Homo sapiens: one gene and its partners. The protein of the gene in region 1 purifies or fractionates together with the protein of each later gene. This does not show direct contact. Each region holds a gene or a part of one and is shown in the gene's direction. Other genes may lie near its edges. The genes, in order: RABL2B, CEP43 and PPP2R3C.

What was found.
Region 2: the proteins of RABL2B (region 1) and CEP43 purify together in Homo sapiens (affinity purification with mass spectrometry; one large-scale study listed by BioGRID and IntAct). This does not show direct contact.
Region 3: the proteins of RABL2B (region 1) and PPP2R3C purify together in Homo sapiens (affinity purification with mass spectrometry; one large-scale study listed by BioGRID and IntAct). This does not show direct contact.

Annotation. Positions count from the first base shown.
Region 1 is NC_000022.11:50,770,269-50,773,737, reverse strand, and holds part of RABL2B (rab-like protein 2B), read left to right. Parts: intron 1-3,469. UniProt on the Homo sapiens protein: Small GTPase required for ciliation. Activated in a guanine nucleotide exchange factor (GEF)-independent manner via its intrinsic GDP for GTP nucleotide exchange ability.
Region 2 is NC_000006.12:167,002,397-167,006,050, forward strand, and holds part of CEP43 (centrosomal protein 43), read left to right. Parts: intron 1-796; coding exon 797-851; intron 852-1,326; coding exon 1,327-1,415; intron 1,416-1,867; coding exon 1,868-2,005; intron 2,006-3,654. UniProt on the Homo sapiens protein: Required for anchoring microtubules to the centrosomes. Required for ciliation.
Region 3 is NC_000014.9:35,104,939-35,108,592, reverse strand, and holds part of PPP2R3C (serine/threonine-protein phosphatase 2A regulatory subunit B'' subunit gamma), read left to right. Parts: intron 1-356; coding exon 357-454; intron 455-1,218; coding exon 1,219-1,289; intron 1,290-3,654. UniProt on the Homo sapiens protein: May regulate MCM3AP phosphorylation through phosphatase recruitment. May act as a negative regulator of ABCB1 expression and function through the dephosphorylation of ABCB1 by TFPI2/PPP2R3C complex.

The DNA of each region.
Region 1 (3,469 bases):
CAGAAGGAGCTGCTCTGTTCTGCTCATTGTCACCTGCTCCTCTGCACACCTTCCTTCATGCTCTTCCCTCAGCCTCTCCCCAGCTCACACCCCTTTATTTGAAACTCTGCTCATTTTTCAGGCCCTGCTTCAATGCCACCACCTCCGTGCAGCCTCCTCTGATGTTTGTCATTAGCTTAGCTCTTTCGTGTGTGCTCCTGCACCACTGATCCCTTCCACAACATGGACTGTCTGTGATGCACGTGTGCAGGATGCTGGGAGTGCCCAGGTGGAAAGACACACGTGCTGCCCCCAGGAACTGACTGACTGGTAGGCACAGTACAGATACCAGTGGTGAGGACAGTGAGGATTCTTCCCTTCTGACCCTTTGCAGATGGTAAAGGAAGGAACTCATCACCTAATTCCCCCGACTGCCCCTTGAGAACAAAATCCCTTGAAAAATTCCAAAAGCTTTAACTCTGATAACTGTTAAGGCACTAAACAAGAGGATGATGGGGCAAGGAAAATGGGGGCAGTGTAGTGCAGAAGTCTGACCCTCAAGAGCAGAGGAGCTTGGTCCTAGCCAGTTTGGTTTCAGGCCTACAGTGGCATTTGGTATTTTGAGCTCACCTCTCTTTTTCTCTTGGAGTGACTGCTTCCTGCATCTGCTGCATCTCCGTGGGCTCCCCTCAGACCCTCTTCTGAAGGCCTGGGGTGTCTCTCCTGCCACCATGCCTGTGTCTGCAGGTGCCTGCCACCAGCCCCAGTCTGCTGCACGGGCCCTGGCGAGTAGAAAGCACTTGCCTTCTGACCACACGGGGAGCTGAGGGTCAGAGACGGAACCAGGGCTCGACCCTCCACCTTGAAACCTTGAGATGGGGATGCTCCTCATTCTAGCCAGCTCCTCCTCAGCTCTCAAAACAAGGAACAGATGCTCAGGAAACCAGACCTGGACAAAAGGCATCTGAGCCTGGTGTGAGGCAGATTCCAGAAGTTTAGTTACAGACATCCTTTATAAGGAGTCTTCATCGGGAATTCAAGACAACCTGGTGATTCATTGAAATTTGCCTGTGAAAGAGAATCTACATAGACTTCCTGCCACCTCTTGAGATGTGACAGTTGCTGACCCTCCCGCCACCACACAGGGCGAGCCCCTAGCCCTGAGCTTGAACCGTGTTGCTTGCACAAATAGCTGGGTGATTTAGAAGTGAGGTCAGCTGTGCCAGCGGTTACAGGGTGGTGGTTGTCTGTAACTTTAATCCACTGACTGTTGTACTAGGGCAGTTTGGGCTAGACACTTTGGAGGAGCTCCTGTGAAGGGCATGAAGGCTCACTGTAGCAGCAGCTCAGTTGTCTTTCAGAGTTCTGCCCTTAAGAGCTGGTTTGCAGTGCTCATCCTTCTTGCTGATATTTTAAAATAGGTAGAAACAGGCTGGGCGCGGTGACTCATGCCTTTAATCCCAGTACTTTGGGAGGCCTAGGCGGGCAGATCACCTGAGGTCAGGAGTTCGAGACCAGCCTGACCAACATGTTGAAACCCCGTCTCTACTAGAAATACAAAAATTAGCCAGGCGTGGTGGTGCGCACCTGTAATCCAGCTACTCAGGAGGCTGAGACAGGAGAATCATTTGAAGACAGGAGAATCGTTTGAACCCAGGAGGTGGAGGTTGCAGTGGCAGTGAGCCAAGATACCGCCACTGCACTCTAGCCTGGGCAACAGAGCAAGACTCCATCTCAAAATAAATACATAAATAAATAAAAATAAAATAGGTAAAAACAAATTATAAAGTAATACAATTATGAACTGCAAATAATAAAACATAAAAATTACTTTAAAAAAATTTAAAGAGGCCGGGCACAGTGGCTTATGCCTGTAATCCCAGAAATTTGGGAGGCCGAGGCAGGAGGATCACTTGAGACCGGGAGTCCAAGACCAGCCTCGTTAATATAATGAGAGCTTATCTCTACAAAAAATAAACAAAATTAGCCAGGCATGGTGGCATGTGCCTGTAGTTCCAGCTACTCAGGAGGCTGAGGTAGGATCACCGGAGCCCAGGGGGTGGAGGAGCAGTAAGCCAAGATTCTGCCACTGCACTCCAGCCTGGCTGACAGAGTAAGACCCTATCTCAAAAAACAAAAAGCAGAAAGAACAAAGAAGTAAACAGAAGCTTAAAAGTAAATCAGCCAGGTGCAGTAGCTCATGCCTGTAATCCCAGTACTTTGGGAGGCCTAGGCAGGCAGATCACTGCAGGTCAAGAGTTTGAGACCAGCCTGGCCAACATGATGAAACCCTGTCTCTACTAAAACTACAAAAATTAGCCAGGCATGGTGGTGCGCACCTGTAATCCCAGCTACTCCGGAGGCTGAGACAAGAGAATCACTTGAACCTAGGAAGTGGAGGTTGCAGTGGCAGTGAGCCAAGATAGCGCCACTGCACTCCAGCCTGGGCAACAGAGCAAGACTCCATATATGGAGATCCCTTGAGATCAAGAGTTCGAGACCAGCCTGGCCAACATGGCAAAACCCTGTCTCTACTAAAAATAAAAAAATTAGCCAGGCATGGTGGCGCACACCTGTAGTCCCAGCTACTGAGGAGGCCGAGACAAGAGAATCACTTGAACACAGAAGGCAAAGGTTGCAGTGAGCTGAGATTATGCCACCACACTCCAGCCTGGGTAACAGAGTGAGACTCCGTCTAAAAAAAAAAAAAAAATCAGGGGCAGTTGTGATGGCTAACACTTGTAACCCCAGCACCTTTAGAGGCCCAGGTGGGAGGATCCCTTGAGGCCAAGAGTTTGAGATGAGCCTGGGTAACATAGGGAGAGCCTGCCTCTACAAAAAAAAAAAAATAAAAAAATAAAAATTAATGCGTGCGTGCTACTTGGGAGGCTGAGGTAGGAGGATTCCTTGAGCCCAGGAGTTTTGAGGTTACAGTGAGCTGTGATTGAGCCACTGCATTCTAGCCTGGGTGACAGTGAAACCCTGTCTCTAAAAAGTAAATAAATAAATAAAAGTAAATAGTAACTAAAGTAAAACTCTAGAAACATTTACGGTTACTACAGAGGAACTTTAAAACAGTTTAAGCAATAAATACAAGAGGACTAAAAAACACAAAAGTTTTTACAATTTCTAACAGACTGCATCAATTGGCAAATTGATTCCATTTATGATTGTTAAAATAGGTGAATAAGATTAGATGACAAGATAACAAAAAAGGAATACGTTATTTATTTGTTTATTTCAGACAGAGTTTTGCTCTTGTTGCCCAGGCTGGAGTGCAATGGCATGATCTGGGCTCGCTGCAACCTCTGTCTCCCTAGTTCAAGCAATTCTCCTGCCTCAGCCTCCCAAGTAGCTGAGATTACAGGCATGCGCCACCAGGCCCAGCTAATTTTTTGCATTTTTAGTAGAGACGGAATTTCACCATGTTGGCCAGGCTGGTCTCAAACTCCTGACCTCAGGTGATTGACCCACCTCAACCTCCCAAAGT
Region 2 (3,654 bases), on another chromosome or scaffold:
TCCAGTTTTTGAGTATTACAAATAAGGTTTCTGTGAACAGTCACATACAAGTCTTTGCTTGGATCTGTGATTTCTCTTGAGAAAATATGTAGAGGTGAAGTGACTAGGTCACATGCTAGGAATATTTGTGACTTTTAAGAAACACTACCAAATTGCTGTCCAAACTCGTTATGCCATTTTGCATTCCCATCAGCAGTGTATGAGGCTGCCACTGTAGCAGCAATTAATGTGGTCTTAAGGAAGCTTACCATGTGCTACCTACTGTAGCCTCTTCTCAGCAACAATCACAGGCTTGATGGTCTAGAAGTATTTTTTCCATACTTATTCAAATAAATGTATAATTACAAAAATAAGTTGGCCTATGGGCCGCATAAGATCATCTCACATTTCATGGATAAACTGGGAATTACAAGTGTATAATTAAATTCCTGTTCATAGTAAGTATGCTATAAATGGTAGATACCTGAGATGACAAAACTTTTATCAAACTTCATGTATTTGAAATAATAAACAGTTGTTGACATTTAATTGTATTTCACACAGGTATTTGAAAATATCTAGCTTCAAAAGCAGTTTATAAAACATTTAAAAATTAAAAATACAAATCTTCATATATGGTTTTGTTATATTAACTTTGAGAAATTACTAAATAGCACAAAGTAAGTCCTGTAGTAATTAACAGTTGTAGAATGGATTTTGTAAAACCATAATTTTATCAATGAAAACGTTAAACTTTATATTTTGTAGTTGTTTTTAGGGTAAACACATGACACTTAAATTTTTTTTTTTTTAACAGAACAAAACTCCTTTAGTTAATGAGAGCCTGAAAAAGTTTTTAAATACCAAAGACGGTAAGATGTTCAGTTTGTTCTTGTTTATCTATCTCTGAATTTTTGAATCTTGATACCATTTGGGAGAAATCAGGAATTTCAGGGCTTTTTTTTTGTCTTCAATTGTTATAGGTCCTCATTTTAAAATAATATTTTATTGTACAACAATCGTGTTGCTATTACATATTTTTGGATTTGGGATGTTGTTGCTTAAAGCCAGTTTTACTACAAAAAGCCAATATTAACCATTAAAAAGCGAAACACTGAAATCTATGAGATGATTGTCTTACAGTTAGTTACAGACTGATGATCCCAGTGAAAAAATCAGGAGATTGAGATTTTCATTACTTAATCATATTATTCAAAGAGGAAATTTGTAACTTAAAAAATTTAGAAACCTTTCTTCCATTAATTTAGTGTATCTATTTCATAATGTTAATTTAAAAAATTCAGTTTTTGAAGATTTGCTTACTTACCTTTTTCTTGATCTTTATAGGTCGTTTAGTGGCTAGTCTTGTTGCAGAATTTCTTCAGTTTTTTAACCTTGACTTTACTTTGGCTGTTTTTCAACCTGAAACTAGCACAGTAAGAATAATGATTTTTACATCTATCTTTTGAAACCTTTGATACAAATGAGTTAATATTAAGCTGAAAGTTAATAGAATTTGACAACTGATAGTTTTTTACATTTAGATTATTTTTGGTAGTTGATTATCTGTTTTTCTTAAAAGCCATATGAGCTTTCAGATAGCTGGCACCAGTGTTGCTGCTTTGTGTTACTTGAAAGCTTGCTAATAAAAGTGTTACTATAGAGTTAATTTTGATACGATGTTAGAGTGCACCTGTTAATGGAAACGTTGAAGGTAGAGGCTCTGTAAAAGAAATAGGCATAATTTTTTAAAATAGACATTTCATTCATTAGTAAGACAGTCTCTTTGAGTTTAAAGATGTCTTTAAACTCTGAAAATATCTTCTTTACTCCTTGAGAATAACTTCTGCTATTTTTTTGTGCACTTGTATTTTAACTTCTTTTCTAGCTGCAAGGTCTCGAAGGTCGAGAGAATTTAGCCCGAGATTTAGGTATAATTGAAGCAGAAGGTACTGTGGGTGGACCCTTATTATTAGAAGTGATCAGGCGCTGTCAACAGAAAGAAAAAGGGCCAACCACTGGGGAAGTAAGTAGAATTCTGTGTTATCTTTTTCTATTTTAATTATTGGCTGCTTAGTTTAGCCATGCAGATTAGTGCATATATAGTAAATTAAGGTTTTCATACTAGAAGATATTCCTTAAAAACAAAATGAGATGCATTCAGATTGTATCAATGCAAATTTTAATGAAAATTAGGAATGTGCTGACTGTGATTCTGTGGCATATCTGTTCTGGTTTTTGATCCTCAAGAGTGTTGGGTCATGAGCTAAACTGTCTGGAACAAATCCCAACTCCTCGTTGCCTCACTTGATCCTCCATTCATTCCATACTGTGTATGAAGTGGGCTCTACCAGGCCCTACCTTGGTGTTCTGAGGCTTCTCTGCATAAGCCAACAGAAGCACTCAACTTGCTATTATTTTTATTAAAACATCTTATTTAAATATAAAAGGGCTGATTTATAGGATAGTTAATAAATTTTTGGACTTAAAGGCCTCTTTAGGCTTAAAACTAAGCTGTTGATTTTGCTTTACGCTGTTTAGAAACAGTTCAAACTTACACTTTTTTGATCAGTAGTACTTTTCATACTCTTAACCTTTTTTTAGAAATTGTGCTAATGAGATTAATGATATAATTTTATTTTCATACATTAATTTTACATGAAGATACTCTGTTTTATAGATACAGGTAACATCTGTAACTGTTCCAGATATTTGATTAAATGTGAGCTTTTAGTCAGAAATTTATAGGTAAGAATGTGGAGGGCTGTATAGGTTTCCAGTTATTTTCTTTGGTGAGTCTCAGAGGATGTTTTCTATTAGAATTTTTGAAAATTGATAAAGCTTGCCTGAGTACTAATTATGTGTAAGGCATGGTAAATAGACTTTGTGGGTACTATAAGATAAAATATAAGAAACTTCTGTGTCTCTGAATAGCGCAGAGCTATTTAAGATAAAATGTGCTCAAATAAGGAAATTAACATTTAAATAACAGTTTAAGATTATGGAGGAATTGTCATTTAACACATTATTTCCAACCATATTATGAATAGTTTAGAGGAGGAAGCGATTGTCACATGCCAAAATTTTATTGAAGTCAATTTTAAAGTGAGAGTAGGATGTCAGTTGTGGGGCGAGGATTGGGAAGGGCTTTCCGAGAAGTTGGAACGGTGCCAGCCAAGCGTGGGAGCAGGAGAGCATAGCCAGATCCCAGGCTGGCTGGGAGTGAGGCGGCTCACCCAGAGCGCAGGTTGTCACTTCAGCTTGTGCATATAATTTCATTCCTTCATTTATCAATATCCAGCAAGCTTTTATTGTGCGCTTATTTGATAGATACTGTGCTGGGTACTGGGCAATCAAAAACAAACTAAAGAACCCAGTCTCCTGGGGCCAGCAGTCTGTAGGTCATGATGACCTCTCTTTATTGGCTTTCCCCTCTCGGCTTCTGTGGCCCTGAAGAACTCTCTTCTCTTTCTAACTGCCCTTTCATTTTCTTTTCTGTTTAGTAGTTGTGCTTTGGCTCACCTCATTGCAGTGGTGTTTATGCATATTTTTCTGTCTAGATTGATCTTTCTTCCTTAACATACCACTAGCATGGACTCTGGAACCAGGTTACTTGGGTGAAACCCCAGCTCTGCTACATTCTAGCTCTGTGAGCCTGCAGTCACTCAGCCTCCG
Region 3 (3,654 bases), on another chromosome or scaffold:
AAATACAATATAATACAATATAAATACCCAATACAAATACTTTTTGTATTTTTACTAGAGACGGGGTTTCACCATGTTGGCCAAAATGGTCTCGATCTCTTGACTCATGATGTGCCTGCCTCAGCCTCCCAAAGTGCTGGGATTACAGGCAAGAGCCACTGCGCCTGGCCAAATCTCCATTTCTTTTAAAAAAAAAAAAAAGTTTGACTTAATATTTTAAGTTTTTGAATTATAAGGAGTCTCTATTGTTCTTTCATTTTTAATTGTATGAATTTATGCCATTGTTTGCTAATTTATGTAGAAGTCATTTTCTTTTATGTTGGCAGATCATTTAAATCTTTATTTTCTTTTCTTAGGCAATTTTTCACAGCAAAAGTCTTTGCTAAACTCCTTCATACAGATTCATATGGAAGAATTTCCATCATGCAGTTCTTTAATTATGTCATGAGAAAAGGTGATTCATTTTTACTGTGCTTGAACTCCTTATCTGGGAATCAAGTAGGTTTTTGGTCTGTGCTTTTATAAGTATTTCTTCTATGTGAAATCACTCTAAGTTTGAATAGTAGAATTTCTTATCTTTTGACCAAGATGTGTTACATAAACTTGGGTTAGCATAAAAAAACAAAAATTTTTTAAACCCTCATGTGTCTTAAAGATAATAGTAGACTAGAAATATTAAGAGCTGAACCAAGAGTTTTAATGTATGGTAATTTGAAATAATTTTAATTTACTGATAATTTTATTTTACCAGTATATTACAAGTTGAGTTGACTGATAGTTTCAAACCCAAAGCTGTAATATCAGTTTCAAGGAGCATCAATTAAACAGCTTGGACTTATGATTCCTACAAGTGCCATAATAATCTGTGAAAGCCTATTGTATACAATCTTTAATAATTGGTTGCTGTAATTAACCTCAGAAATAAAAGCAGCTTCACTGAAGGCATAATATTATACTAGCTGTCCCTGTTTGGTGGAACACCAAGTTTAATTGGTAAAGAACAGTATCTTCAAGGTGTCAATTTTATTATAGCTTTAGTCATGGTAGAATTGTTGAACTCTTCCATTCTATGGTTTTTTGTTTCAAGCAATTTTGTGGTGAGAAGAAATGTTTTTAGAGTTACTAGATTAGCTTGTCTCAAATCTGGCTCTTTATCTCCTTTTTCATATCTGAAGGATAGATCTTAAGAATTACTTTCATTTTCTTGTTTATTGTCAGTTTGGCTTCATCAAACAAGAATAGGACTCAGTTTATATGATGTCGCTGGGCAGGGGTACCTTCGGGAATCTGTAAGTGTTAACCTTATAGATATTATATTAACTCTTATAGACACTAAAATGTAAACTGTAGTTATCACTGGGTGTTGGGATTACAGGCTGTTCTCATAATACTTTGTTTTATTTCTGTCTGTGTGTGTTTGTGTGTACATATTTAGTTTTACTGTAACAAAGCAACTTGTACACTTTCAACTTTTAAAATTGAACATCATCTTTCCAGTGAAACAAAAAACAAATTTAAAATAAACAAAATTACAATAGAGAATGTCAATTCCAAATAAGATCCTACAGGTTCTACTGATTCTCCCATGGAGTAGCAGCCTTCAAGTCATCATTAAGAGAGAATTTATGCTGGGTGTGGTAGCTCACACCTGTAATCCCAGCACTTTGGAAGGATGAGGCAGGCGGATCACCTGAGGTCGGGAGTTTGAGACCAGCCTGACCAACATGGAGAAACCCTATCTCTACTAAAAATACAAAATTAGCCAGGCTTGGTGGCACATACCTGTAATCCCAGCTACTTGGAAGGCTGAGGCAGGAGAATCACTTGAACCCAGGAGGCAGAGGTTGCTGTGAACCGAGATAGCGCCATTGCACTCCAGCCTGGGCAACAAGAGTGAAACTCCGTCTCAAAAAAAAAAAAAAAAAAAAATGTATTGGCTGGGTGCAGTGGCTCACGCCTGTATTCCCAAGGCCTGTACTCCCAGCACTTTGGGAGGCTGACGTGGGCGGGTCACCTGAGGTCAGGAGTTTGAGACCAGCCTGACCAATATGGTGAAATTCCATCTCTACTAAAAATAGAAAAATTTGCTGGGCTGTGGTGGTGCATACCTGTAATCCCAGCTATTCAAGGGGCTGAGGTGGGAGAATCGCTTGAATCTGGGAGGCAGAGGTTGCAGTGAGCCGAGATTGCACCACTGCACTCCAGCCTGGGCAACAGAGGGAGACCCTGTCTCAAAAAAAAAGAGAGAGAGAATTTATTTTAAAGGTGTCATTTTAAACTGCAAGGATGCCCCTTAAAAATCACAATTAAACATGCCAAAGGAAAAGCAACGTTGTCAAAATGCTCACTTTAAACTATCAAAACGTTTCAAACCTACCCTTTGCTGACCTATAACCCCATTTTGTAAAATTTATTTTCTTTTTTTAAATAAGAGACAGTAGACAAGGATGCCGGGCGTGGTGGCTCACGCCTGTAATCCCAGCACTTTGGGAGGCCGAGGCGGGCGGATCACGAGGTCAGGAGATCGAGACCATTCTGGCTAACACGGTGAAACCCCATCTCTACTAAAAATACAAAAAAAAATTAGCCGGGCGTGGTGGCAGGCACCTGTAGTTCCAGCTACTTGGGAGGCTGAGGCAGGAGAATGGCATGAACCCAGGAGGCGGAGCTTGCAGTGAGCCGAGATCACGCCACTGCACTCCAACCTGGGCGAAAGAGCGAGACTCCATCTCAAAAAAAAAAAGACACAGTAGACAAGGAGATGTTGGTAAATGCTAACTGTCCATATTCACATAGAGACATAGTATACTCTGCGCTCAATAGAGGAAAGCAGCTAGAATTCTATGCACGACTACACAAGGGCCTAGCACCTTCCAGCTTCCAGCAGAGCAAAGGGAACAGGTTTTTCTTTTTTTTTCCATAGACCTCGGTGGTGTTGATTCCATATAGTTTTTGTTGAGACACAGGATGTTTCCGTTTTGGGGTTTGGTTTTTTATTTTTATTTTTTTTAACAAATGACATGTGTTACTAAACAAATGTTTAATGTATATTGACTATACAAATTCCTTTTTAGATTCTTTTTCTTCAAACTTTAAAAAAAAAAGGCCTTTTGGCTGGGCGCGGTGGCTCATGCCTATAATCCCAGCATTTTGGGAGGCCGAGGTGGGCAGATCTTGAGGTCAGGAGTTCAAGACCAGCCTGACCAACATGGAGAAACCCCGTCTCTACTAAAAATACAAAAATTAGCCAGGCATGGTGGTGGCCACCTGTAATCCCAGCTACTCAGGAGGCTGAGACAAGAGAATCGCTTGAACCCAGGAGGTGGAGGTTGCAGTGAGCCTAGATTGTGCCATTGCACTCCAGCCTGGGTGACAAGAGCGGACTGTCTCAAAAAAAAAAGCCTTTTAAAGGGGAAAATAAAAAGAATGTAGCATTTTAACATTTAAAAATCACTGAAAAACGTTTGATTATTCATGAGTGATATTAATGTGTCACTATTTTTTAAAGGGCCAAGAATTCCACCCCCCCGCTTTTTTTTTTTTAAGAAAATATAAGAGAAGCCAGACACGGTAGCTCACGCCTGTAATCCCAGCACTTTGGGAGGTGAAGGCGAGTGGATCACTTGATGTCAGGACTTCGAGACCAGCCTGATC